Linked DNA regions of Homo sapiens: region 2 is linked to region 1. The links come from fine-mapping of genetic effects on gene expression. A gene starts in region 1. The other region holds a variant in brackets. All regions are shown on one strand. Distances are between the middles of the regions.

Region 1 (15,075 bases):
TTTCCCAGCCAGAGAAATCCACTAAATACCCACCATTCCCGTCCAAAACAAGAAGCTCAAAGCAGATTTCATAACAAGGTAATAGAAAGAACAGTTAATTCCTGTTAACTAATTTTCCATCCCTGCAGGACTGCAAGCCCCATCCTCCTTCCCCCGGCTCCTCCTCTCCTCCCAGCACTGGGGTCTCTGGCTTCAGTCTACTAATGTGGATGCTAAGTAATCACTAATTGACTGTAACGCAGAGTGAAAGGGCATTAAAATCCGAGGCAACTGGGAAGTTAGGACAATGCAAATATTTAGGACTTGAGGCTGTCTACACCTGGCCAGCGGGGTCATCGGGTCACTGTTCAAAATACAAGATGCCCCTGTGGCCCAAGTTTTTGTCTACTCAATGGAAAGAAATTGCTTTGCTGGTTTCCCGGCTCTCCCACCCCCACCCCACCTCTAGGAGCACTCGATTTTTAAAAATGGACCCTGGTATTTGCAGCCCTGTAGGCGGTCTCCGAGACGTCTTGAGGGCTCGCGTTACCCTAATCCTCACAGCATTTAGTCTACATTCTTGCCTTAACCCCCCTTTGTTTTTGGCGTGTCAAGAGGCAGGTGCAGATACACCTAGCTTCGGTCGTCCTTCCTTCAACTTCCTGCTGCTCCCGGTTTTATCCCTTCACGGCTTTTCTAGTAATTCATTTCCTTTTTCATTAGTTTCACCCTTCGGATCTCTTTAAAAGACACGTTTGCCCCACTGTCTAAAAATAATAAGGTCCCATCCTGCACAAAGCAAACCCCCTGAGACACAGGGATGCGCTCGGTCCCAGTCCAGCCGCGGCCTCTCGTGCGGTGAGTGCACCCGGTGGCCCGCGCCACCTCGCCTTCCCCGGCGGCGCACAGTGCCGCCAACTCCCTTCCCTGGTCGATTTTAATTGACATCCTCAGCCGCCTAGGTAGAGACTCTGTCTCTCTGGAGCCTGACACGTTTCCAGCGCTCGTCAAGGTCCACTAAGCTGCGGAACCGAGTGGGGAGCCGAGGCTCGAACACCCGCAGAACGCGCGGGCCGGGCACACCCGCCGGCGGCCTCCCCGCTCCGAAGAGGAGGAGCCCCTTCGAAAATGGGAGCATCGCTTTCCCAGGGTTAAACAGTCACATTAGACTCGAGCCGCCAGGGTTGGGGTTTAATTTTGTCATTCCAAATGCTTGGAACGAAATGGGTCTGGAGAGGAAGAGAGGTTTTCACCCGGCCTCCTCCTAATGGGCGCGCCGTCCGCACTCGCGCCTGCCGCGCCTATCCTTGCTGGAAAAGTCCCTGCCACCACTCTAAAGGGCAGCAAAGGGGTCCCAGGCCTGGCTAATTCCAGCTCAGTCGGACCTCTGGGCTACCTGAGATAATAAGCTCCGAAAACGGGCGCGAACCTCTGGGCGGATGGACTGCAAGGGCCAAGGCGCAGGAACCTCTATTGCAGCGCACCGGGGAGAGAGAGGCGGTCCCTCCCTTGTCCCCTTCTGGGCTACGACCTTTACCCACCGCTGCGGGACGCAGTAAGCGCAAAGCCGGCTACCCGCGAAGGGCCGGCCGCCCTGTCCACATCTACCTCCACCGGCGAGTCCCCCAAAACCCAGAGCACGCCCGGGATTCCCGGGCGAGTGCCCAGGATCGTGAGCCGCCCATGGGTGCGCAGCAAACGCTCATTTAAAGAATTCATCGTCTGTTCCCCGGGCCACCCAGGCCGGCATCTGCCCGCGGGGCGGAGGAGCCCTGCCCCGGTCGTAGCGAGGTCATGTGGGTCGCGCTCCCAGACCCTAGGACGCCACTCCTGCTCAGCCCTGCGTAGCCCCGCCTAGCTCTGGTTTTCCACGAGCCCGGACCTCGGCCAAGAGAGGAAATAAACTTGAGTTAGGTCCTGCTTCTTCTCAGTCCCGACTTTACGACTTCCCGGGACACTGCGGACTGCTCAATGCAGACCTTTGCCCCTCACCTGCTGCACCTGCGTGCTCCGTGTCCGGCTTTAACAGTTAATTCCGCATGCGGAGCGCACTGGGACAGCGGCTTTCCAAGCTTCCCTCCGTGCTAACGGCCCTCTCAGATAACAAGGCCCTGGAAAGGAGGAGGCCGGAGCCCTCTCGCCCCTTGGGAGTCCTCAGCCATCCGCTGTCCCAAGCGGGGCGCTGCCGCGCTTACCCGGGTTTCTCCAAACTCCCTTCTTTGTGGTACACAGCTCTGGCCAGGGGCTGGAACGGGATCCTAGCAGTTAGGACATCGGAACCCCCAACCCATCAGGCCCGAATCGGCCGGCGGGGACAGCTGACCTCATCTGTAAAAATTGTCTCCTGCCTGAGAATATATTCTCGCGACGCAGGGAGGGAGGTCTATGGTGCCTACAGCTGCTATATCGGAATGTTCGGAATATGATAGAATCTCAATCTATTATATATATATATATATATATATATATATATATATATATATATATATATATAATTTGTGTGTGTTGTGTGTGTCTGTTTCTCGCACTAGGAGACAAGGCAGGAATGGAAAGAAGAGCGAACAGCACCAGCGTTTGAGTGAACTCCTGTCTTGGACAGTGAATCCATCTCACCCCCTTAAGAAATGTCCTGCAAGAAGGACAGTCAACAACCCCGGGGACTCGGATCTGCAACTCGACCTGCGCTGGGACATTACCCCACGCACCCCGGAGGAGCCCCAGGAGAGGAAGTCCCAGGGAAAACCTTTACCCCGACCCTACCAAACACAAAATAAAATACCTTTTTCCTACAGCTTCGGGGTTCGCCAGAGCTTGCCGGAAGCATTTTAGGAGACAAGGAGGGGGACAGAGACCCCCAGGCCTGCATTCCAATTACCACCCCCAGCGGAGACCCCGCGGGGCTCCTCCTTCTCCCGTGCGGGCTGCCCTCTCTCCCGCCAGCGATCCGGGCGGCGGGCTTCCGTCGTCCTTTCCCTCGGTGCCTGGGGAGACTACATGGCAGATGGGTCAAAACCGAGGCGGATAAAACGCCCCACCTTCCTATATGCCTCGCTCTTTTCCGCGTCTCCTCAGAGGGCATGGCCGGCCAGCAGGGCCCCGACGCGTGGAGGGACTGCTGAGGTCCGCGGGGAGAGTTTTGGAGGCGGCTCGGAAGGCTCTCGCCGTACCCGTACCCAACACGGCCCCGGGTCAGGCGCTGTGAGGATTCGGATCTCGACGTCCCTACAGCCCGGAGGGAGGTGGCGGGGACGAGCTGTCGGTGCGGGCCGTAGGGACAGCTGTAGGGCTGTCGGAGCGACGAGGCCCGCACCGGGGGCCGCGCGACCAAGGCGCGGTAAAAAACCAGGAGGGCTACGGCGCGAACTGCTAAGTCCGCACGGGAGCCTGCGGGGGCGGGAGGCCGGGACAGAGTGGCGAGGAAGAGGCCAAGTCTGGAGCAAGACCAGAGATGAGAGAGAAATTATTACATCATTTGGAAACGTTTTCCTAAAGGGTATGCCCCTCACCCATCCCCAAATAAGCAAAGGAATAGTCCAGCTGCCGCCGAAATAAGCTGGATTTAAATCACTTCTTCTAAAATGCCCCTAGAGGGGAGGGCACTAGAGGCACCGAGCTTGGGGACACCTAGACCTGCGTCCCCAAGTGCTCCATTCGTGGTGACTCCATGTGATGAAGAGGCAAACATGTCTGTGTTGAGAGGGAAACCCTTCTAGTTGGCGACTGGAGGGACCCCTGTGGGAGAGCGTTTCTTTTGTCTCCCCTCCTCTAGGGTTTAAGAGCCTACTGTCCCGGAAGGCCCAAGGGTGTGCCCCACAACCCCTCGAGCTTCCCCCCTTCTTAGGCCACTGGGCCCAGTCCCAAGAAAACTAATAGTTGTGTATATGTGGGTGATGGGGACCTATCCCGCGGTCCCAGCACCAACAGCCTAACAGCCAGAGGCCAGATGTGCTGCAAGGGAGGCTACAATCCATTCACATTCCAAGAGGAAATAAAAGCTGGATCCAGAAGTCTTCAGGGAGTGGGCCCCTCAATTTTGGCCGATGCCTCCTCCAACCAAGGTCACGAAACTCGGACAAAGGGAGGACTGACCACCCCCTCTAGATTAGACATTGCCTCCCTGGGCCACCCTGGGGGGGTGGGTGTGGAAGTTCCTTTGTACACCTCAAGTTTTCCACAGTGTGAACCTAGACTCAGCCTTGGCAAACTGTAGCTCTGAAGGTGAGTTCTGGGCATTTTAGCAAAGCGACTCCCTGACGTCGAACATCAAAGTTGTCTCTGAACAGGGAAGGCAAAAAGTGAGACAATCAGAGTGTCACTCATCACAAGAAAGGCCGTCAGAGCAGAGACCATCGTCCTTCATTGGGGTCCCAACAGACAGGTCACCTACGGACCACAGCCATGAAAGCACAGACGTACTGGGTACCAAGGACACTAGTAACACACACACACCCTTCCCCCACTCATGCAGTCTCCTCACTCGCGCAGAGCTACAAGCAGCTTAAGGACTCGGTGCACCTTTGCAGGGTTTCTGTTTCCGTCTTTGCAGGGGCTGAGAACCCACTCTGTCCCTGCCTGTGTGCGGGGTGTGGGGCGTAGTGAATCTCCAATGCCTTCTATGAAAACATCTTAGCGGTAAACTCCCCAAGGCTCAACACAGACGTGGAACTGATTGCCGGCAGTTGACACGAAAACACTCAAAGAATAACTGTAGAATACAGCCAAGAAACAATCTAAATAGGCTTGGATGAAGCTATTCTTTTCTAGTCCCTTCTCAAAAACTTCCCAGGGAAGCCTACGGTACGCCTGCCCTCCGAAGGATCGCCGGACAGAAACCCTGCCATGGAAACCCGAGGCGCAGGAGGGCGCGCTCGTGCGCCCTAGTTTGTAGGTAGTCACCATCCCTGGATGAGCCGGCCCTTACTTAAAGTAAACCCCGAAGATGTAGCTACCGCACCACTAAAGAAGTCGCAGGCGGAAGTACAACCCCTTGGCAAGCGGAGCGAGGAACTCCTTGGTCTCTCCAGGGTGCCCGGGGCGCCCTGCTGAGCGTGCAAGCCACAGGGGCAGGACTCTCCCGGCGCTTGTCGCGCGCGCGCGCGCGCGCGCGCGACGACTGGGCACCTGTTCTGGCCTCTGCACAGATTCCCTCTCGGGGACTCTCGCTCAGGAGTGAAGCACAGAGACGGATTCCCTTCGGGAAAATCTCTGCGCGCGCACACCCATACACACAGAGAGAGACTTGGGGATAAACACGCCGCGAGCTCCGGCTGTCTCGCTAATTTCGGGCGCGGGAAGAAAGCGGGCGGGCAGGCTAGCAAAGCTCCCACACACCCCCGTCTCTACCCCTCCAAACCCGAGCCACCCTGAGCACCTGCCCTCGCGTGCGCAAAGGCTGAACCCGGAATTCACAACTTGCGGTCGCTTCTCCCTCCCCTGCATTCCTAGGCTAGCTGGAATGCGCGAGCAGATTCCCTCACAAGGAGCAGTCAGTTTCCCGCGGCGCACGCGGCGGGCGCCGCGGGCAGTAGCGGCTGGGGACTCACCCGGCACGCACGCCCGGGGCGCGGGCCGCAGGGACTAAGAGTGTGGCCGGGGCTTCTCCGCCGCCAGCCCCAGGGGCGAGAGACGCGCTCTCCAACTTCCCGCCAGCTGGGGTGAAGTTGCACTAGCGGTCCTGCAAGCGCTGACCGTCACGCCGGCGAAAGAAGATTTGTGGGGACCACCCTCGCCCTCAGGCCTGGCCTACAGCTCGTACCCCTGGGTGTCCCCAAACAGCACTCTCCCCAGCGTTCCAAGAAAAGCCTTGGGCTGGAGATGCGGGGTTCGGTACTCGGCTCGCCTCAAGCATGATCCAGGAGGCGTTCACATTCGGCCCCAAACAGCCAAGAGCCTGGCCCCCTCAAACGCACTCTGGCTGGTGCCCCTGCCCTGTGACCGCCTCTGCGCCCCGGCCGCCAGCCCCTCCCGGCCCCTGAGCGGCGTCCGGCCCGCCCCGCAGCGGCTGAGGCTGCTAGCTGTCTTGTTAGAATTAAATCAGCGAGAAAGGGGGGTGTCTTACGTTGCATCGGCACACCTAGCATCTCCGGGAGCCCCTTGACAGCCCCTTCCGCGGGGACAGTCGCACTCTGCATCATCTCGGAGCGAAAGCCAGCGAGTCGCAGTCTACGGAGATCTCTCGCTCTCTCGCTCTAGCTCGATTCAGAAATTTCAAAATAATAATTAAAACCCCAAGCAGGCCGCTGGAGTCACGGTGGAAGCCGGGCCCTCCGCTTCTCAGGGAGGACTCCACAGGCTGGCCGGCCCCCTCCCCCCGCCAGTCCCCAGTCTGTTTCCAGTCCCTTTGATCTCGCTCTCCGGGGTTGGTGCACATCCCAGGTTGAGACGCTGTTGCTGCAGCTCTGGCTTTTTTCCTCTTCCCTCCCCCGCCCGCTCCTTCCCCCTCCCCCTCCACCCTTCGCGTGCCGGCCGCCCGGGAGGCCGCGGTCACCCGGGCGTTTTGATTCATTCACACTGCAGGAGCGGCCGTGACGTCGCTTTCCGCAGGGAGGCCCGCCCTTCGGCACATCCCCCAACCCGGCGGCGGGCAGCCGACCCCGGAGGGAGTGGGGGTCCCGGCGCCCCGAGTGAGGCCGGCGGGGCGGAGGGGGGCGGGGCGGCAGGGAGCGGGGCGGGGCCTCGCAAGCCGGCACCCCCCCCCCCTCCCCGCCTCCGCCTCCGCCTCCGCCCAGCCGTGGCGGGCTCGCGCCCTGGGTATAAATTCTGCTGATGGCCTGCCGCGGCAGCAGGTGGTCGGAGACGGCGGCGCCCTGGGTTTGCGGGTCTTCGTGGGTTCCAAGCCCGCGCGGCTCGTGTCCTCCTCACTCCTCCGTTCGGACCCAGGGGCGGGGCGGAGCCGAGCCGGGGCCGAGCGGGGCAGGCGGTCCGGAGGCCGGGGACGGGGCTGCGTCGCTGTGTCTTCGCCTTGCGCGCTCTCGGTCCCCGGCTTCGCTCCGCCGGACGGAGCGCGCTCCGTAACCGATGACTCCATCTATCTTCCTCCTCCTCTTTCCCCTGGCCAATTCCTTTCCTGCCGGCACTTCCCAGCCCCTGCTCTCTCTCCCCCGCGTCTGGCTGAGGCTGGGCCAAGGGACAGCCCGTACTCGGCCCGGAACGCGCGAGTCACGCGGCGGGCGGCGCCGGCCCGGGCTGGGGAAGGGGACCAGGGGCTGTGCGCGGAGGTGGCGGGACGCAGGCCCCCCGCGCGCGTCCCCGCAGACCGCGGCCTGCAGCCGGAGTCCGCACTTGCCTCCAGTTCCGCAGGGTAGGGGGCCCAAACCTCCCCGCGGCGGGGCCTCCCCGGCCGCCCTGCCACCAGTCGTCCAGCTCGGCCCTGTCTTAGGTCCCTAGAGCCCGCTCTGCCTCTCCGGCTGCCACCGCGGGTGCTTTGAACCATCCGCGACCTCGTGCGTGCAGGGCGGCAGTGAGCACACGGACGCCGGGGTTAACCAGCGAAAGGGCTTGCCATGCTTACTGTATTTACGAGATGCATGGACAGGTAGAGAAACGCTTAAAACAAATTCTCCTCAACGCGAGTTTCTGGCAGAAATACAACAGAAGGCCCAACGCTGGGACGAGGTCTCCTCTGACGCTCCATCAGGCGCTCGACGCCTCCGGGCTGCAGGCGCGGGAAGCCCACCCCGTCTGCCCCAAGACCCAGCCGCTCTCCTGCCCCCAGCCCCCACGGCATTTCCTTCCAGAAATGCAGACATACGTGTCCTTCCAGCCTAGTGGGGTTCAGCTTAGGCGGGAAGGGGGACTGTGTGCCCTCCCCAGCCTTCCAGAACCTTCCCTGCTGTTTCCCCTGGTGTCATCTCCAAACAAGGGACACCTGCTCACCTTTAAGGGAGGAGCATGGGGCGGGGGAGAATGGCCTGGTCGTCTGCGCTGCTTAGAATTTGTCTCCAATGAGGTCACAGTGACTTTTGTGTGTCCTGGTACTGGGTTGGCATCATCTCTTCCCTTGTTTACCTGCGAGGTGACTCCGCGCGCGAGACAATATACACAAGAAGAAAAAAGCAAAAGAACCCAGTGACATTTTTAGTGTTTACCAAAATGTGTTCTATAGAAATATAACTAGTAAGCAAACACGGGGAAACGCCAGCCTCATTTGCAGTGAAAAACACGCAAGACAAAACAACACGTGCACAGCTTTTTCTGTTTGTGAGATGCCCGACGCGCGGGAGGGGCATCCTAGAGTTCAGGACTGGCGAAAGGGGCTTGGACACTCACCAATACTGCTGGGTGCTTATAAACTCTTAACATCCGTTTGGAAAGAAATTTGGCAATATGTATCAAACTCATAAATTTTTCATACCCTTTAGTTTATGTAGTACTTTTGAATGTCTGTTCCACGGAAATAATCTAGAATTTTTTATAAAAGTTTCATGCGTGAAAATGTTTATTACAGTATTATGTTTTGGAGAAAAATAACCTAAATAGCCAACAAAAGAAAAGTGGCTTAGGGAAGTAGATTAAATTGTTTGGTAGTATGTTATGGAATCATGGAAACCAATTATGAAACCCAATAACATGGGGATGCTTGTGAAATACTATTTTTTTTAAAAGCACAATGCAATAGCATAGGATTATAAATATGTAAAAATCTTAGTCAAATGTAAGGGCAATGATAATACCCATTGTTGGTTAGGCTGTGGGGAAATTAGAAAACAATTTCCTAGTGGGGATTGCAAAGAGGGGAAATGTCTTCTCAGGACGTTTTGGCTACAAATGTGATGCATTTGACCCAATCTCTATAGAAATTTATCCAAAGAAAATAATCAAGAATGTTTGTGAAGATGTAGTTACAAGGATGTTTATAAGGTTTTTAAAAGGGAAAACCTAAATATCCAACAATAGGGGATAGTAAATAAGTTACAGTAAATTATTAAGTAAAATGGAATGTTATGAAGTCTTAGAAATAATACAACAGAAGAATATTTAATGTAGAAAAGGGTTTGAGATTTATTAGGAAATGTGAAAAAAGAATATGAAGCGGTATGAACTTCAGGAACTTTTCTTAAAAAAAGCATAAACACTGTACACTTAAAAATGGTAAAGATGGTAAATTATATGTATATTTTACCTCAATAAAAAATTGTTTAGGAGGAGTAAAAAAAATGCCAAAGTGTAAAAGTGGTTATCTGTGCAGTGGATATTTTATTTTATTCTCTTCGCTTTTTTCAGTTTTCTCAATGAGCACATTATTTTATAAAGCAGAAAAAAACTAATAAAATGCTTTTTAAAATATTAGGGAAAAGGTAAGGAAAGATACCAAAATACTATTCAAAAGAATATTTGGAAAAAGGTATATTAGGGAGATGTATTATGGAATTTTTTCCTTTTTCTCTTTTCCAGATTTTCTGTAAAGTGATTATTTTTCAGTAACATTAGTAAAAGATAACATTCAAATGCAGTGAATGTAAAGCATATATAGTAATTACTTTTATAATTTAAAATTATATTTTAAAAATGCTCTCTGCAGCTCCTGCTTCTCTGATTTGAACCTGCTGGGGTCCTGCCCTTTTCCCATTGCATGTCACTAGCCTGTCAGTAGGTGAGGAACAGCCTTACTGTGGTGGGGACTTATCTCTGCCCAAGACTGATTCAGGGGATACCACTTTCACCTGTGTCGTTTGGCAGACAAGCCCAGGAAAGTCAGCTTAGCTCTCAGTTCTTGCACCTGTAAGCAGCAGCTCCAACATACCTTGCACCCCCATGCCCACACACACAGTGCAGCTCAGCCAATAAATGCCCTTTCCACATTCTGAGGCTTTTTTTTCTTTCTTTCTTTTTTTTTTTTTTTGAGACGGAGTCTCGCTCTGTCGCCCAAGCTGGAGTGCAGTGGCGTGATCTCAGCCCACTGCAAGCTCCACCTCCTCCCGGGTTCACGCTATTCTGCCTCAGCCTCCCGAGCAGCTGGGATTACAGGTGCGCACCACCACGCCCAGCTAATTACTGTATTTTTAGTGGAGACGGGGGTCTCAGCATGTTGGCCAGGTTGGTCCCAATCTCTTGACCTCGTGATCCACCCGCCTCAGCCTCCCAAAGTGCTGGTATTATAGGCGTGAGCCACCACGCCCGGCCATTCTGAGGCTTTTCTAAAAGCATTCGCCTCTTGTATGAGCTGGGTCCCATTCCCAAGGTCCTCCAATAGCATCTATACCAGCCAAGACGCTTCACTTCCCCTGGGACCTCAGCTTTCCCATCTGCAAATGAGGAACCCCTAGCAAAAAGCTTTCCTTAAACAGATTTTAGTGCCTACTGCTGTTGATGGTAATAATAATAATAATAACAACATAGTAGCATATGGTAGTAATAATAACTAATATTTATTGAAAGTTTGCAACTGTACTAGGCACCAAGGCAAGTGCTTCTACCTGCATAATTCTACCTATTCTTCATGAGGAACTGATGCATGGTTTCATCATACCTACTTGGTGGATGAAAAAACCGAGGCTAGCAGGGGCTAAGCTGTTTTCTACCCCCAGAGAATGGGAGAATGGCTGAATCCCACAGAAGTCCATTAATCTCTACTATGGAATGGCCCAGAAAGACCCTTGGGGTGGGACTCAGTTTGGATTAAAATCCCTGAGCTGACTCAGCAGGGCTTTTCTCACTACAATGCACCCAGGGCTGGCAGGTGACCTCCCAGGAATGTTCCTCAGAGCCAGCCATGTCCCTTTGGGCCAGGACCTGGTTGGAGGTTGAGCACTAGAGGATGGGCCTGTGGTGGGGTGATGTGGCTTTCTTCAGGTCTAAGTTCTGTCAGAGAACTTGAACAATAGCCAGTACAAAGTATCCAGTACTTGCTAGACATTTATACATTCCATTTCTGGAAACCAAACCCAACATGTCAGGGGATCCAATTCAGAGGCAAGACACTCAATTTAGGAAAATGATTATAGCTTACATTTATCTAGCATTTTACATTTTACAAAGTTCCTCCACATATTTTATCTCCTATTATCTTCATAATTATGCCCGGGCTTGGGTATGATTATCAGGAAACAGAGAGGTTAAGTGGTTTGCCCAAGGTCACACAGCTAATAAATTGCAGTGCCAACTGGAAATTAAATCCAGTCTTTTAAGTCTCAACCTGGTGTTCTTTCCACTCGGCACAGCAGTCTAGTGTGTCTTCTAACCCTTCCATTTTAAGAGCTTCACAGAGTAGGCAAGTTCACTCTCAGATGCCAGGAATCCTGAACCCCAGGCTCTTTCTCCACTGAGGGACGAATCTCACTGCCCCTGCTCCCCTCCCTGTCATCCCAGCTCTAATCATCTCCTCCTCATCCTCATTCCTCTCAAGGCCCCTTTCATTATTTGCATTTTGAAACTGTTTCCTTAATTATTCTCCTGCTGTTGGAAACCTGCTCTCCCGGGGCTCTGTGGCATCCTTTGATTTATCTCTGTCTGGATAACAGCTCCCCGATTCTCCTTGGGGAATTCAATTTTCATTCATTTTTCTGCTGGGCTAGATTGATATAGACCCTCTGCCCCGGTCCGTATTACTCATCCCCGCAGAGAGAACCAGGGAGACCAACCCTAAGCCCAGCCCCTGGGGAGCCACTGTCTTGTTCAGGGAGCCACAAGGAGTTCTCCAATAAAAGGACAGGGGCCTTTGCTCTTCTCCATCTGTCCACCCAGTCCTTCCAGTCATTTGTCACAGGGCCTTTCATGGGCCCACCACTTTGTCATTTGTCTCATTCTCTTCCCAGAACCTTGCAGGGATCTCTCCCCACCAGGATGCTGATCAGAAGGCCGTCACTACTCATCTTAAACCTGCCCTGTGTCCTTGACACAGGAATTTAAGGGATATGGGAAAGAGATGGTCCTGTACTTGGCCATCTAACTCTCAAGATAAGATTCTGTCTCAGTTAGTGGCTAAGAAACAGGACAAGAAAAGGGCACTGGGATCCTTAGAGGAAGACGGAAAGCAACAATGGCTCACACTTACATTGCCAGCCCTGTTCTAATGCTGCATGTATATTCCTCATGAAACCCCCACAGATCCTTAGAGGCAGGTACTATCATTATCCCTATTCTACAGATGAGGAAAATGAGGCACAGAGAGGTCAAGTGATGTGCCCAAGGTTGCACAGGTGGTAAGCAGCAGAGCTAGGATATGGTCACAGGTAGTTTGGCTCTATCCTTGCAGCATCACCAGCATCATCAAATAATCCTTATTTAAGGGTTCCTGGGCATGGCCAGGTGAGGGGTCCATGCAGAGTACATGACCCAGCAAGGCCAAGTCCTCTAAGCCCATCTCTGAAGCTATCACATCCCATGGCTGTGTGTATGGGGGAGCTGGGGAGTTTAGTCTTGTTCCAATTTCAGAGTTAATTCTCTTTATCTCTCAAAAGTCTATAGTACTGGCTGGGCATGGTGGCTCATGTCTGTAATCCCAGCACTTTGGGAGGCCAAGGCAGGCAGATCACCTGAGGACAGGAGTTTGAGACCAGCCTGGCCAACATGGTGAAACCCTGTCTCTACTAAAAATACAAAAATTAGCCAGGCACAGTGGCAGGTGCGTGTAATCCCGGCTACCAAGGAGGCTGAGGCAGGAGAATTGCTTGAACCCGGGAAGTAGAGGTAGCAGTGAGCCGAGATCACGCCACTGCACTCCAGCCTGGGCGACAGAGTGAGACCCTGTCTCAAAAGAAAAAAAAAAAAAAGTCTACCTAGATCATTCCTTAATTCGTGCATTCATCGGGCATCTATTGTATGCCAGCTCCATGACAGGCCCTGGAAGGCAATGACCTGGAGTGCCAAGTGCAGACAGTTCACAGCTTACTTTGCTCCAGGACTGGCAACATTCCCATAAAATTATGTCAGCAAAGTTCTCCAGATGCCTGTCTTCCTTGTGTTGGGAAGGGGTTGGAGAACTGGGTTAGTAAATGTTTGGGTTCTGGGCTTAGATGACGTGCATTCAAATCCCAACTTGGATACATTCTGGCAAGTTCCTTTTCTGCTGTCCCTAAAGTCACATAGCTAATAAATTGTAGTGCCAACTGGAAATTAAATCCAGTCTTTTGACTAAATGGGGTTAACAACAGCACTCTACTCACAGATTGTTACCCACCGCACCTAGTAAGCATCATGATTATACCCTCTGCAATATTTTGCTTTTTTTTTTCTTTTCCTTATTTTACATTTATAGGGGAAACCAAGGGACAAGAAACTCTCCTGGGTGTTCTTAAGTGAAGACTAGACTTTGGGAGCTCTTCTTTCCTAAGCATGCATTTGGGATAGAGAGAGCCCCATGGCCATGGACTGTTCTTGGTTTTCCCCTTTTTGCAGGTGGAGGAAACCTGCTCTTTCAATTCTGCCACAAGCTGAGGTCAATGTGCCAGAATTGCTTCTTGGGTGAAATTTTAGCTATCTTGTGAAAAGCTCCACTCCGTCATGGCAACAGACACCTTGCTTATACGAAGCAAAGGGGACAGGAAGGTATAGCTGGGCTGATTCTGTATTTTTCCTTCGGAAGCTGTTCTGCCCACACTGCCTTGCACCTATGTTCTCTTCGTTTTTGTTTGTTTTCTGATTTGACTTAATCTCCAAATTTATGTAAAGAAGGAGCTTAGATTCCAGATGCTGCACAACTGCCACCTTCCCCGCTTCCCCCTTTCCTCATCTTCCCTCCAGGATTCAGCGGCATCTCAAATCCAAGAATGGTCTTAGTGACCAACATTTTTTATAGTGCTTGACAGTTTACTAGGTGCCTTTCCATACCCCATCTCACCGAAGCCTCACAAGCCTCACCGAAGCAGGTAGATCACGTCATACTCCAACCACTTTCTAGATGAGGAAACCAAAGCACAGAAAGGTCGTGCTGTCTGGGCTTGACCTAGGGCTCTGTCTCAGAGCTTCTAACCAGATGATCCATTTCTCAGCTCTTGAAGAGGACGCTAGAAATGGTAAGGAGAAGGGGTGGAAAGCCCAGCCTGGCTCCATTTTAAATAGCTGCAGGTGTCAAAGCTAATCTATAAAACAATCCCGTCATTGTCTTGGCGAAAGATTTTTACTAGAGGAGTCTAATTCAACAGTTTCCCTTCAGGAACTGACTTATAACCAAAACATGTAAATGTGTTCGATGTGGGCAGAGGAAACAGGAGGAAGGCCCAGGAGGTGTGTGTGAGGACAGGCTGTGAGGCAGGGGCCAGACTCCCGATTCTGGAACCCGACAGACTTCAGTGTGGGTTCCAGCCATGCTGCCTGCTGGGTGTGACCCCGTGTGAGCTTCCATTTACTTATTTGTGTAATGGGATAGTGACAATTCCTACCTAATACCATTGGCAAAGGAGGAATAAAGCCTTTAGCACAAGGCCTGGTGCAAGCAAGCCCCCATAATTGTGATGCTGTTTATTGTCCAAGAACAGGGGGTTCCCTGCTTGGCCTCTTCTCACTTCTCACATCCTGGCTCACTATGAAGAGCTTGCCACTGGTCACCAAAACTTTCTACTTGAAAACACTGACCTGCAGAAAAGGGACCAGGTCACTAGAACTGTGGCCACTTTTGGTGGTCAAGGAGGAAATATTGAGAGCTTTGGGGGGGCAAAGGATTTCCCCCCAGACCTCACCTGAGGAGGTACTCTGCAGAGAACATAAAACCTGGCTCTAATCTACATCTGAGTTTTATGTCTGTGGGAAGTTAAACCCCGGGAGCCTCTGTTTTCCCATGCTTAAATGGGGGTGATACTCCCATAATTATCCTGAGAAGAGGCTGTTGGGGATCAGGAGATCCCACAGGCAAAGCTCCTAAGGCAAATGCTCCACGAATATTCCTTCTACTACCGGGCCTTTCACTGAGCTCCTCAGACTTTCCCATGCATATCATCACCGGGTGCTGTTCAAATGCAGGCTCTGACGCCATATGTCTGGGCCTAGGATTCTGCATTTCTAAGGAGTTTCCCAGGGATGCTGATGCTGCTGGCCTCTGGACCTCAGGGTATGTGGGGACGCTCCAGTACTCCGCTGCCCAGAAAGCAGCTGCTAGCCACATGTGGCTGCTGACCACTGGAATGTGGCTGTGAGAACTGAGATGGGCTGTAAATTGAATCA
Region 2 (15,075 bases), 340 kb before region 1:
CTTGGCTTTGTTCTCAGGCAGACTCACCCTGTATAAGATGGTCAGGCTTATACTGCGCAGATAGGTGCAATCCCAAAGAAAATAATGCAACTGACTCTGCCCACGAGGGCCCATATCCACCCTTGAAACAGACTCTAATTGGCCTTGTTTGGGACATGGGCCAACCCATGCTATGCAGGCAAAATCATATTATTGGCAGCCCAAAGCATATGGAAAGGGGAAGCAGGAATTAGAAAAGGAAGGAATGCCCTGAAGAGAGAAAAAAATGACAGTAGGTGTTTGTCACAGACCTACAGATTTGGGAAAGCATGAAATTCAAAGGAGAAATTCAAAGGAAAATTCGAAGGTCAAATCCTAGGGGATTACTTTTATGACAGTTAATTTTTTTTCAACTTGACTGAGCTAAGAGTTGGCCAGGTACCTGGTAAAAACGTAATTCCTGGGTATGTCTGTGATCCTCTCCCACCAATGTGTGCAGGCACCATCCGATCCTTCAAGGGCCAAATAGAACAAAAAGGCGGAAGAAGGGTGCATTTACTCTCTCTCTTCTTGAGCTAGGACATCCATCTTCTCCTGCTCTTGGACCTCAGTGCTTCTGGTTCTCAGGCCTTTGAAATATAGCACTTACAACAGTGGCCCCCCAGGTTCTCCGGCCTTTAGCCTTGGACTGGGAGATGTACCACTGGCTCCCCTGGTCCTCAGGCCTTCAGACCCAGAATGAATTAGACCTGCTTCTCCAGCTTGCAAACAGCAGATTGTGGAACTTCTCTGCCTCCATAATTGTGTAAGCTAATTCTCATAACATATATCTATATAAATTCCAAAAATTATATATATACATATACCTCAAATCCATCTCCTCAGGAAGTTTAAGGCTAGGGTTTTTAAGGGTTTTGGAGTGGGCTGAAGTGTCACCATCGACCGGTCCAAGGGTGCAGGGTGAAGTCTTAGGACAGGGAGATGAAGAAACTCTATTCTCATGCGGAACTGATTCCTCCTTGAGAGCCTCTAAACTGGTTGTTAGCTGTTCTCCTGGAATTCAGGATCTGCTTAAACAACTCTTAAATGAAAGCCTTATGATTCTGTCAGAAATTCTATCTATTGGCATAATGGGGATACATACGGTTAGTATCTAGGGTTATGTGACTTTCGGTTACAAGTAAGTGAGTCAACGTGCAGCCTGAATAATGCTTAATTATAACTATATTTCTGTCCAGAATTCTTGTTAACACTGGAAGGATGGCTTCAGTAAGGATGGATGAAATGTAGAAAGGTGGGGTGATTTCACTGGGGAGAGGTGAATGTAGTCAGGAAAATGAGGTCATGCAGGGCTGGCAGTCCCTATTTTCTCTATCAAGTAAGAGGGAAGGTCATTTTCTGAGAGTGAAGGGAGGAAAGTAGAAGTAGGGGACTTGAAAGACTGGTGAAAGGCTTTCAAGGGGGGTGTTGGGGAAAGGACATATAGGGGAGAAATAAAAGAATTGCTAGAGGGCACTGAGGTTGAGGTTGTTATTTGTCTAAGTAGGAACACACAAGGAGGCATGAACATTGGATTTAATTTCCATATATACTATTAGTGCTGTCGTCTTTGACATGTCATGGCACTGAGGTTGGCGATGAAACATTCTACCCACTGCTCAAGGCAAAAGTAAAATATATTCTCCACTAGATTGTACGCCTATCTCACACTCTTCCAAGCTTCATAGCATTTGGGGCCACTCTTATAGCCCTTATCATGTTACATAGTACTAAAGTATCCTGCCAGCCACACCGATCAGGTTCCTGAATTTGGAGACTGATTTTGAATGGTGTGTCCAAGTACTGATGACTGGAGGTTCTTGAGTTTTGGAAAGCAAGTAGTAAAAGCTGGGATGGAGATGGATTTATTCTAAAATGTATCTGAATCTATTTAATTCTTGGGTTTAGGTAGCAAAAATTTTAAGATTGAATTAGATTAGTGAGGACAATACGTGTGTGTGTGTGTGTGTGTGTGTGTGTGTGTGTGTTTGTGTGTATTAACTTGCCTGCAGTATTGTGCTCACTTGAAGGCAGACCTTTTATCTGACTAATCATCATGTTTCCACAGGTCCCAATGTGGTGCTTTCCATGTGGTGGGTGCTAAATATTTATTGAATGAATAAATAAAAACTTCTAGGCCGGGCATAGTGGCTCACATCTGTAATCTCAGCACTTTGGGAAGCTGAGGCAGGAGGATTGCTTGAGCCCTCAAGAACAGCCTGGGCAACATAACGACTCCTACTAAAAAAAAAAAAAAAAAAAAGTAGCTAGTTGTAGTGGTGGACACCTGTAATCCCAGATACTTGGGAGGCTGAGGCAGGAAGATCTTTTGAGCCTAGGAATTTGAGGTTGAAGTGGGCTATGATCATGCCATTGCACTCCAACCTGGGTGAAAGACCCTGTCAAAGGAAAGAAAGAAAGAAAGAGAAAGAAAGAAGAAAGAAAGAAAGAAAGAAAGAAAGAAAGAAAGAAAGAAAGAAAGAAAGAAAGAAAGAGAAGAAAAGAAAGAAAGAGAAAGGAAGGAAGGAAGGAGGTAGAAAAGAAAAGAAAAGACAAAAGAAGAGAAAAGAGAAACTTCCAGGTATCCTTTTCCCACTTTTCCTTGTTCCTACTAAACTGTACTCTCCCATTAAGATAATTTAAGGTGAAACCAAAAGAATAATTTTAAAGAACTGCTCTTGTAACTGGGACTGCTTCCAAGTGCAATTATAATCACGTGCTTTTCATTTTCCTTTTCCACCCCTCCTATCAGAGAAAACCTGAATCAATTTCAAGAGATGAATTCCACTGCTTGTGTAAAATGTTCTGGCTTGTAGTCAAATGCACATTGCAGGAGTATATAAAAATGACTTTGTTTTCCACACAAGTGAATTCATTTAGGCAGTACCCAGTTTCTATTTCTTATTACCTTTTGGGAGGGCAGAGCATTAGGAAATTAAAAGGTAGCATTTTTGTACGAAAACTGCTGAATAAGGAATACCTGAGTGGTAAACAACTGGCTGAACCACCTTTGTGCTTCTGAGATAAGGGAGCACATTGTTTATTGTACCTGAAACCTGTTTCCAATACAAGGATTATATCTGCCTTGCTTTAGAAGGAACAATAATAGCATGCAACCTTGAACATACACATACAGCTCTGTTCCTTGTTCTTCATTTGTAACCGTATCCTTAGACAAAGCTGAATCTCCTTGGCTCTAACAAAAAGATTAAAAGGTTCTGATAATGGCTGAAATATCTTAGTTTCTGCATGTTTATGTGTCAATTAGGCATTAACACAGAGCTGTGTTTAACAAATATTCATTGAAGGAGTGGAGGAGTAAAGAAACAGACTCCGCTGGTAGAGAACAATGATAACATTTTTCCAGGAGGAGGCAAAGACTTTAGACTCTATCTTTAGACTCTATCTTGCCCAAGCTGGAGTGCATCGGTGCAATCATGGCTCCCTGGAGTCTTGAACTCCTGGACTCAAGCAATCCTCTCTCATAGCTAAGACTACAGGCACACACCATTAATTTTTAAATATTTTTTGTAGAGATGGGGGTCTCACTATGTTGCCCAGGCTGGTCTCAAACTACTGGGCACAGTGGCTCTCCCACCTTTGCCTCCCAAAGTGCTAGGATTACAAGCATGAGCCACTGTGCTCAGCCTAGACTTTTTTTTTTTTTTTTTTGAGATGGAGTTTTGCTTTTGTTGCACAGGCTGGAGTGCAATGGTGCAAACTCGGCTCACTGCAACCTCCGCCTTGTGGGTTCAAACGATCCTTCTGCCTCAGCCTCCCAAGCACCTGAGACTACAGGCATGTGCCACCATGATCAGCTAATTTTGTATTTTTAGTACAGACGGGGTTTCACCATGTTGGTCAGGCTGGTCTCAAACTCTTGACCTCAGGTGATCCACCTGCCTCTGCCTCCCAGAGTGCCGCGATTACAGGCGCGAGCCACCACGCCTGGACAAGACTCTGTTTTTTGTAAGTACCCTAGAAATGTGTTCGTAGACTCAAGAATGTGGAGGAAGAGAAGAAATACACACCTCCGATAATAGACTTAGGATGAAGGTTAATCAACTCCAAAGTGGGTGCATCCACATTTCAATTCAAAACAGCCATAAATGTTATTTGTCTAAGTAGGAACACACAAAGAGGCACGAATATTGGATTTAATTTCCATTTGTACTATTAGCACTGTGGTCTTTGACATGTCATGCAATTCTTCTGAGCCTGTTTCCCCATATAAATGACATATAAACGTGTAGGATTGAGCCTGGCATATTTATTTACTCAACAAATATTCATGTGCCAGGCATATGAGATAAAAAAGCGAAAAAAAAAAAAAAAAAGACAAGATCCCAGCCTTTGAAGAGCTTGTAGTATAGTGGGAAAGATATACAAATACGTGAGTACTGAGATAATTACGGATGGTGTATTAGGGCAGTAAAAGGAAGAATGCCTAAATCAGACTGGGGAACCCAGGAAATCTTCCTTGGGGAGGCAGTGCTCACACTGAGATTTGAAGAAGTAGGAATTAGACAAAAATGGGAAGGTCATTTCAGACTGAATGGGCAGCTGTGCAGGGGCAGAGTGGCATGCATCAGCTGGCTGTTTAGGGAACTGTTACCCATAGTTCAGCACCATTGGACTGGATCAAAGGTTGTGTGGTAGGGAGAGGTAGCACATGGAGCAGGAGAGGCAGGCAGAGGCCAGATCCTGACGAGCCTCGGGTGCTATGCTCAAACAGAGTGAACTTTACCACCAAAGGTACGAGGAAACCCCTTTACCACCAAAGGTACAGAGAAACCCAGGAGTTCGAAGGAGGGGTAGGTGAAAATTAGGTTTCTCTTCACCAAGAGTACTCTGGGCACAAGGTGGGGAAAAGACTGTAGTGGGGACAACTTGGAGGTAGGAGGTCCGGTTTAAGGCCCCTATAGTAATCCAGACCAGCAAAAAAATGAGTCTCAGCTAAAGTCATGGGGATGGGGAGGAGGAGATTTGCAGGGGTGGCACTCTCAGGGCAGGGAGAGAGGACAGGCAGTGAAGGAGATGCAAGAGTCTAAGATGATTCTCATCCGAGTAGATGAATGACATTACCATTCACTGAGGTGGTGATCGCAGGAGGAGGAGCAGGTTTGGGACGGGAGTAGGTGGGGAAGCACAACACTTTCCATTTAGGGCTGGTTTTGTTTAGCTGTCTGTGAGTCATCTGTGTAGAGGTGTCCAGGAGACAATTGACTATATGGGTGTGGACTAGAAGTATAGATTGGAAATAGCAACCAAGGTTGCCAGTTGTCCCCTAATACTTGTTTATTCTTATTTCATGGTAATAGGATTCCTTCCCTCCCTTCGCTTTTCTCTGGGGGGAAGGGTGCATGGCCACCTGGAATAAAAACTACATTTCCCCGTTTCACTTGCAACTGAGTATGGTCCTATGACTAAGACATGTATGATTAAGACTGAGTATGGTCATATGACTAAGACAATGAGAAGTTCTGAAAACCTTACTTAAGATTCAGCCCACGTGTACCCTGCGCCCCTTCATCTGCCTCTGTCCCTTCTGCCATTTTCCTTCCTGGAAGATAAATGCTGCCATCTTGGACAACACAGATGAGACCACTTAAAGAAGACAAGAGAGAAGGGTCCTGGGCAGGGCCATCACATTGCTCTACTCCAGAAGGAACCACTCAGGCTGTCTATGGGAATCGCGCTTGCTAGAGCTGCTCGGCACTCAGCCTCTGAGGCTGTAAAGGGAGGCCCAGAGAGAGGATCTCAGACCTCACGGAGCTTCTGGACTGTTTACTCAGACGTTATGTGAGAAAGAAAAATACATTTTAAAACTTAGCTTTTGCTTAAGCTTTTAAGCTCCCAGTATTTTAGTTTCCTTTTCCTCTTGCAGCCACATGTAATCCTAAATCACACAGGGAGTCACCAACCTATGGGAGGAAGTTGAAACCACAGTAAAGGATCAGGTCAGCCAAGGACCTCGTAGAGTGAGAGGGCAAAGGATGATGACAGAGGCTGGGGGCAGGCACTTGAAATGTCCCTCACACTCTTTCCTTCGGCCATTGGGAAATGTTCCTTTAGCATTTGCTCTTTTCCTTCTCAACCTGCCTCTGGAATGAGAATGTCTTCTCTACTCACCCAGCTGTTAAACCATCACCATTACATCACAGGCTTCTTCAGTCTAACCTTATAGAATCACGGTTGGCTGTGGGGTGAGAAAATCAACAGCAATGAGTTCTATGGCTTCCTTGAGATATCATTTACATACCAAATAATTCACCCATTCAAGTGCATGATTCAATATTTTTGACTATTTTCATGGAGTTATTCAGTCATCACCACAATCTAATTTTAGAACATTTTTGCCTGCAAAAAGAAATGACATTCAATTATTCACTAGCAGCCACTCCCCATTCCACAGTAATGATTTTTAACTATGCCATTGTTGGTTCCTTCTAAATCAGAACTAAACCAACTAGTGAAATCAATTGCCTTAGGTGTAGAAAAGCAGAGAATGATAAAGCTGAGGAGACTGAGGTTCAGAGAGGTTAAGTTACCTGCCCAAGGGGACCCAGATAGTGGCAGAACCAGGTACCCTGGCTTTCCCTCCAATGCCCTTTCACTTTCTGAATGGGAATTCCATAAGTACTTTTTGAATGAAAGTTACAGGGTACCATGGTAGAATAATTATCTTTTTTTCTTTTTAACTTTTCATTTAGAAATAATTTCAAACTTACAAAAATGTTGCAAGAATGCTACAACAAACTCCCATATGCCCTTTACCTAGAGTCCTTAATTGTTAACATTTTACCACATTTGTCTTTCAATCTTTCTGCGTATTTTTATAAATTATTGTGCTGAACAATTTGGGAGGCAGGTGCAGACATAATGTCTCATTATCTCTTAATACTTTAGTGTGCATTTCCTAAAAGCAGGACATTCTCCTACATAACTAAGTAGAAACATCAATACAATGTCACCATTTATTCACAAACTTCCAATTTTACCATCTGCCCTGATAATATCCTTTATGGGTCCAGAATGCAGTTGAGGATTGGTTGTTGGAAGTAATTAATTTGGAACAGTTTCTCAGCCTTTCCCTGTCCTGCATGCCTCTGACATTTTCAAAGGGTACAGCCAGTTATCTGTAGAATACTCCTCAGTTCAGGTTTGTCTGATACTGCCTCGTGATTAGCTTTATGTCATGCATTTTTGGCAGGAACACCACAGAGTAATGCTTTGTTCTCAGTCTATCATATCAAGGGTACATGATGTCAATTTGTCCCATTACTGGTGATGTTAAATTAAAAATGGGTAATAAGAGTTAACAAGTATTTTGTTGGAAGACACTGTGAGATAATGTAAAGATGCTGTTTCTCATCAAACTGTCATCCACTAGTTTTTGCATCCATTGATGATTCTTGTCCAAATTAATTTCCATTCTGTTGGTTGCCAAATGGTGATATTCTAATTCCATTTCTCTTTCTTTCTTTTCTCTCTCTCTCCTTTCTTTTTTTGAGACAGGATCTCGGTCTGTTGCTCAGGCTGGAGTGCAGTGGCACAATCACCGCTCACTGCAACCTGAACATCCTGGGCTCAAGCAATCCTCCCGCCTCAGCCTCCTGAATAGCTAGGACTACAGGCACATACTACCATGCCCGGCTAATTTTTGTAATTTTTGGTAGAGATGGGGTTTCACCATGTTGGTCAGGTTGGTTTCGAACTCCTGACCTTAGGTGATCCACCAG[C/T]CTTGGCCTCCCAAAGTGCTGGGATTATAGGGATGAGCCACCGTGCCCAACTTTTATTCTTGATATTCCCTTTGATTCTTTATTGCCCTCACTTTGGCCCATGGAAGTCCCTTCAGGCTGGTCCCTGTGTCCTTTCTCATCCTGAGCATCACCTCACTTTCTGGCTCAAGAAGATGCTCCAGGCTCATCTTGGACATTCCCTGCCCCAGGCCTGTATATTAGCTTCCTTTGACTGCCATCTCAAATTACCACAGATTTGGAAACAACAGAAACTATTCCCTTACAAATTTGGAGGCCAGGAGTCTGAAACCAATATTAATGGGATGAAATTAGCTATTGGCAGAACCACACTCCCTCCAGAGGCTCTAGGGGAGAATCTGTCTATTGCCCCTTCCAGCTTGGGGTAACTGCTGGCACTCCTTGACTTGTGACTGAATCACTGCCTCCATAGTCACGCTGTCTCCTCTTCTGTCTGTAATCTCCCCCGTCTCTCTCTTATAAAGACACTTGTGATGGCATTTAGGATCCACCTGGCTAATCCAGGATAATCTCCTCATTTAAAAATCTTTAACTTAATCACATCTGCAAAAATCCTTTTTCCAAATAAGGTAACATTTACAGGTTCCAGGGGTTAAGATGTAGATATCTTCGAGTGGACCAGTTTTAAAACTACCACATCCTGGAATCAGCTATTTCCTGATGGAGTCCTATTTCCTTTTAATAAAAAATAATATCTAGAAGCCATGATGTGGATGCTAGGTATGCTTATTGCTACTTGGGTGCCTTTACTTTCAGGCACTCGGTGCAGATAGAGCTAGGAAATTAGGTATATAGATAGATAGATATGTCTATGCATGTATATGTGTATCTCTATATATGTATATATTTATATATACACACATAATACACATAAATCTTTGTTATATATTTACATTAAAAACCAGGAGTTCACACCAATACTTTCAGTTCTATTCCAACACCACAGCATTTATTCTAGCCTTCTTTCATTCTATATTTGTAACTCAAATATAGATCTCTCCAACAGTGAGCGGCCTGGCTCCCATCATTTTCAATATGTTTACTTATTTGCTCAATTCCCCTGTAACCAATCTCCTGATCATACCAGCTAAATCTACTCAGCCCTGTTACTGCCAACCACACCAGCTTTAGGGGATGAATCCCATCAGCCCTAGGAAAGGGGAAGGGCGAAGAAACCTTTTAATAAAAAAAGAGGCACAATATGATTTTATTAGAGAAGTAGAAATGTCAGTGTTGAAGATAAACCTTTCTTCCATTAAGCTCAAGGCACCTTCATTTGTGATCGCACATTTGTTATGCTCAGAGACGTGTCCTTAAGTCCCAGAAATGAGAGAATGACTTTTATAATCCAACATCCTCAAGAGCTTCCCTCTTAAAGGCTTCAAGATGACAGTGAAAGGTTCAGAAATTCCCCAGCACAGCATACATAAACACATTTCATGCTGCATTTTCTCATCCTTAAAAAAATGTGCATTGCCAGACATGCTGAATCTCAAATTGCTTATAGATATACAATTTTTTCAGTTGGATGAACACCTTTATGCTTAAAAACCCTAGAAGACCCTGGGGGGAGCAATTTCAACATCCATGCAGAGACAATCACAGATGATTTTGCCCCTCACTAACTATCTCTCTGATGTTGTCAATGGGAGGAAGGATGGAGTTCAGCAGTGCCATTTATATTATGCTAGACAAACACTGGATTTATATTTCTATTGTGTGGCATCATTGTCTAACACCTAACATGGTTTTCCTGTGGGAAAGTCGAGATGGGGTGGTGAAGGCTGGGGTGGCAAGCAGAGGGAAATCAGTGGATTCAATGCATTTGAGTGCCTCTTCCGGACAAGGTTCTCCTCGCTTTCTGGATTTAAGAGTTGCTCTTTGCTCTCTAGTGAGAAAAAAGTTGGGGGTGGGGATCCCTATCTTAGCTGTTGCAATCCCTGGGCTGCTTCAGTGTTAATAACATTCCAAAAATGCAACAGATTTTGTTTTTGCTGCTATCGCGTATGCCAGGCATCTGGGGTGAGAGAAGGAAAATGGAAACCTGAAAGCGTGTGAAACTGTGGAATGATCGCGGTAGCTTTTGGTAGCAGGGACTGGGTCTAATTTTCCTGTGTCGATGACAAAGGTTCAGGAATCAAAGGGGAAAAAAATTAAAAAGGAATAAAAATCTCTGCTTACTACACATCAGTGTTCTAAAAAGACATATATCTGGACATAGAGGAAATGGCAAGGCGGATTTGCAATCATTAAGCCTTTTTTACAATGTCCATATTTGTGGTGTGGCCATAAAACAAAGAGAATTTCTTTAACACCAAACAACTTACTTAAACATTCAAAGGAATTGAATCCCTTCAAAGTGGCTACCCAGCCAGTCTGTGCACAATTCTAAGGAGAATGTGGTCGCTCAGAACATTTTGGAAACATCTTTTGGAGTGAACTTCAGAGTCATTTAACGAACCACACAAAATTGTAGGATAGTGACTATAGCAACAGTTTTTTTTCCCTCTAAAACTAGAACGGCCAGCCATTTATTATCCACTTCTATTCTCTTAATTTGACTTTAAAAGACAAGAGATTCTAAAAAAAAAAAAAAAATCATCCTAAAAGATCTCTAAGGAAAAGACATATCATTAGTGATAGTTCCAATCTTGGTAACTACTAGCTTCTTGAGATGTGCAGACATTTTGCATTCATTTTTTCTTATCTTTTTTCTCCTTTTACCATTGAGGAAACTGAGGCTTAGAAAGATGTTAAACAATTAGGTCAAAGCGGCAACAGCTAAAATGTGGCAGAATGTGATTTGCATCCAGATCACCTGCTTCCAAAGCTTATACTCCTTTCCGCTGCACTGAATGAGTACCTCCCAATTTTTGGAGCCAAGGTATTAGCCCCAGAAGCATGCGTATTTTAGCCCTAGAAGCATGGCCCCCAAAAGTGGCCATTTCAAAGTCATGATGCTCCTTTGCTTGCAAAAATTCTTATTTAATTTGTTTAAAATCTATTGTTTCATTGGTCTCATCTCATATTTCACATAGAAAATGTTTACAACTGAAATAATGGAAAGTTATCCATGAGTGAACATGGCAAATGTTAATATTACCATTTGGAACAATGAGTCTCAGGAACTGGAGATGGGAGGGGTGCTTGTGCTGACCCACAAGAATCTCAAGGGCAGTGGCTTGGGGCCTGATTTGAAAACAAAGCAGTGCTTTCTTCTTGTGCTTTTGTGTCCCCTGATATTTAATTTATTTTGAATTTCAGAAAATGAAAGAAGGGCATGAAACGTTTTAAAATTTATTAAAGGGCACAGGTTTTCAAAAGCTTGTAAAATATTATATAAGAAGACATCCATTTCAGTGTTATACATATCTTAGCCTTGGTACAAGAAAACACTGACTGGTAAAAGCTAGAAGTACAGAGGTCAAAGAAAACATATTTTTCAATACCCATTGTTTAATAATTCAATGCAAACCTTCCTATTACGCCTCTAAAAAAAATTTCCATTGTTCTGAGAGGAGAACTGGGGAGACGTTGCAGCCGCCTCTGGGCACTGAAGACACAGCTTGTGCAGTTCTAGGAGCCGAAGACGTTCAAACCTGCTCTCTTGTCCTGACTGCAACCCTGGTGGTGAGAGACAAATACTCTTGCACATCTGCTCGATAGACAGTTGTGGATGGTGGGGGATTCCTTCTGAACAGATTTGTAGCTGCTGTGTAAACAGCTGGGTTTAAGAAATAGCTCCATTTGCACTAGCCTATTGTTTGATTAAAGAATTTGAGTGTGTGGCCTTGCACCTCAAGAAGGCCAAAGGGATTGATTATTGGCTGGGTGAAATGCTACCTTTAAAAAGCACTGTAATCTCTTCTCGGCCTTTTGGCTAAGATCAAGTGTAAAGGGCACTGTATGTTCAGGGACTTCAATCTCACCCTCATTCTGCTTGAGTATTTCTGTCCCACTTGTCCTTCAGATTCTTCTTATTTTTATTATTTGTGGCTAGATGGGGTAAGATTCATAGGCTCCAGGGACCATATCTGTTTTATTTGCCAGTGTATACTCGGCATATAGCATAGTATTTGGCACATGGTAGGTACTCAGTGGATGAGTAAAGCAAATAATCTTGCTGTATCCTGCTTAGGGCTCTGTGCTGGTCATTGTCCAGAGTTTATTCAAGTTCATTGGGTTGAATTCCAAACGAAGCAGGAGAGTCCATTTTTAATGATACGTGGACAGGTTGCCACTGCCAGGCCCTTCTTATTACCATTTGGAAAGCAAACCACTGCTACCCCTTTCTGCTGCTGTCAACGGTATCCTCCCTAGCTTGTTAGAAAGAAATTGGCACTTTGATACACAAGGCTCCATCAATCCCTGCACTGGAAATGCAAAATCTGGATTCTCTCTAAGGCTAAATGTCTGGGGCTTGGACTCCTTGGGGTGGAGCCCTGGACAGTGGCCAGTGTCATCAGTATAGGCTGCAGAGACAGTTCTCCAGTGGGGGTCTTCAGTCCAAGCCAATAGGATGGCCACTTGATGGGTCTGAAAGGAAACCAGCTGCAAAATGGAAATTGACATGTTATAAACAGAGAAGGAGGAGACAAGGAAAGCCAAAGCTGAAGAGAGGCTTAAGCAGGAGAGAGGAGAAGGGAGGCTTGGAGAGAGCCAGGAGTCAGCACAAGACAAGGTCATGGAAGGACAAGGAACCCTTCCGGGCAAATCCCATCCATGCCGCCATTTTAACACAGAACAGGTGCTCCAGTCATATTTTCTGGGCTATAAAATGTCCAATACTACAAAGAGGGTATTTAAAGGAGAAGAATTAAACAAGAACTGATGCCACTGGGAACAGAGCGAGGGCATAGGACAATGGTTCTCATTAGAACCTTAAAATCACCTGGGAACTTTTGGGAACCCATGGATGCCACAGCCTGCCCCTGGAGATCCCGATTTAATTGGTCTGGAGTGGGGCTCAAACATCAGTGGGTTTACAAGCTCCCCAGGCAATTCTAATATGCAGCCAGGGGTGAGAACCACTGGCCTAGGAGATCAAGCAAAGGTGAACATCGAGCAGGGAGAAGATGCTTATCTACTAAGCTCCTTGTCCCACAACTGAGGACACTCACCTGCTGGCCTGGCTCACCCCAAGCACTGGGACCTAGTCCCAGCGTATTCCTAGTTCAGAGACATTTAAGAAAGCTGATTTTAGTGGCTCAGGTGACTGGTCCAATTGGAACAGATGCCTCAATTTTCTCCTTTTGCTAACCAGACTATGTCCTAAATCATTTGGAGCCTAAAAGACTTACATCATAAGCAGGATGATAGAATTGAATACAACACAGTAGTTTAACTTTAGACTAGTTAAACTAGTCTAACCCTAGTTAGACTAGGGTTGTCAGCAGCAAATAAGAATACAGAATGCCCAGTGAAATTTTAATTTCAAATAAACCGTGATAATTTTTAGTATGTCTTATGAAATATTTAGGACATAGTTATACTTACAAGTATTCATTTATCTGAAATTCAAATTTAACAGAGCATCTTGTATTTTAACTGGCAATCCGACTTTAGACTCAAATGCTGTGTTTTAATTTAAGAGCATGGCTAGCTTTTTAGAAAAAATGGAAAGGATTGGGTTACCATATATGAGTTGGATGGCTGTAGATATTGATTATCCAGAGACATCCACATTCACACCTGTTTTGCCAACATAACTAATAGTGCCCCCCTTCACTCTCAAAAGTGTCTAGTAGTTTGAATGATAAATTATATGGTCATCCTGTTACAGTAGGTAGCTAGTCAGACACAAACAGGACAGAAGAGGGTCCCCACACCCCACCGGGAAAGTCAGGCGACCATCGGGTGATGGTCAGGCCATTGTTAACTGTCTCTCTAAAATAATAATTGGTTGCAGCCAGCTCCAGGGAAAGGCAGTCTCCCTATAGATAGAAGAAACCTGAAACTGGTGATCATCAGCTTCCTGATAAGATCCCAGGAGTTGGGCGTGCGGACTCACACATGAGCACCAAGAGGCAAAATGGCGGAGTTTAACTGGTATTTGATCTTCTGGGGGCATGTCACCAGTAAAGGGAAGAATGTTTCAAGTGAGCATAAGTACAACTCCAGTAAACACACTGCGCATGCTCACCTCCCAAGTGCTAGCAGGTCACTACACATATGGACAAACCACCCTCAACGAAAGAATCAGGGGAGAAGACCCCAGAAGTATGCCAACATATAAAACCCTAAGTCAAACCACACTTGTCCTTCAAGTCGCCCACTTGGACCTCTTCTAAGTGTCCTTTCCTTCCAATCCTGCTCTAAAGCTTTTTAATAAACTTTCACTCCTGCTCTAAAACTTGCCTGGGTCTCTCCCTCTGCCTTATGCCCCGATTGAGGTTGCTGCCGACCCGTACGAATTCTCCACTGTTAACAATTCCATTCACAGTGACCCAAACTGTGAATACTTGGCTATACTCAGTAAGACAAGATTATACTTGGTTAGTCCTACATAAGAGATCTCTGGTTTTCTTTGTGGAAGCCTGAGGAAACAGAACGTGAACTCCACCCGGCTGTTACTGTTAAACCCATTCTAACTTGCTGACTCACTGTTGTCCTTCTCTGGCTAGACCCAGGGCATCCTAGGGCCTGCAGGAGGCTGGGAAGGCAAGTCTCCTCTCTGCCATAAGCATGCCCTGAACCCTGCTGGGAGTAGCTCTAAACCTTTACTCTCTCTTGGAGCGGGAGACTCCTTACTTGCCCACCAGAACTGAAAACGAAGGGAAGTAGCAGTAAAGCTGCTTTCATGTTTATCTATAGCTGGTGTCTTTAATCTGCCTGTAAAGGACCACTTGGCTAGAGGAAAAAAACATGTTCTCAGTTTTATCTTTGTGACTAGGAAATTAGTCTAACCAGATGAACACACTCAACACTAAACTGATTCTGCTGTTTGTTCTATTCTGTCACTCTGTCTGTGTCACTCTAACTATAGTGGCCTGCTCACATATCATGCCTTAGGCATTTCAGAAAATATCAGCCCTGGGCCATGGCCCTGATTCAGATATTTGTCCAGCCTTCCTCTCTGTGCACACCCCATCCGCTACTGAATACCTTGTGTCCCTTGACAGCCTCACTTCATATTCAGCACCTGATGGCAGCCTCAGGTTTGTCTCCTTGCTTTGATCACCAGGCTTTCTTCTCTGGGTTATCAAATTTGCCCCTTTTTCCACCTGTGCCTCTGCTTGACTTAGGGCTTTATAGATCCCTGAGTTACAGCATTCGT

Which allele goes with the higher level. Positions count from the first base shown, and alleles are read on the strand shown. Sizes are in standard deviations (SD) of each study's normalised expression.
As copies of T replace C in region 2, the expression in lymphoblastoid cells of the gene that starts at base 6,379 in region 1 goes up (large effect, 0.77 SD a copy in GENCORD).

The links. PIP is the estimated chance that this variant, and not a neighbour inherited with it, causes the effect. A credible set is the group of variants that fine-mapping cannot tell apart.
Region 2: its variant is the best candidate, but not a certain one, in a credible set for the expression of LHX4 in lymphoblastoid cells (GENCORD, PIP 0.67).

What each region holds. Positions count from the first base shown.
Region 1 is chr1:180,221,568-180,236,642 of GRCh38, reverse strand. It overlaps LHX4 (LIM homeobox 4), which reads right to left and starts at 6,379. Exons shown (of 6, transcript NM_033343.4): 1 at 6,038-6,379. The coding sequence starts at 6,113. RefSeq lists a silencer at 6,809-6,938.
Region 2 is chr1:180,562,526-180,577,600 of GRCh38, reverse strand. OVAAL (ovarian adenocarcinoma amplified long non-coding RNA) reads right to left here. Exons shown (of 3, transcript NR_125716.2): 3 at 11,083-12,350. It also overlaps the pseudogene LOC124904658. Among named protein-coding and RNA genes, the nearest start is that of OVAAL, 11 kb to the right of the region's middle. RefSeq lists an enhancer at 4,968-6,167. The variant C/T (reference allele first, on the strand shown) is at 7,761.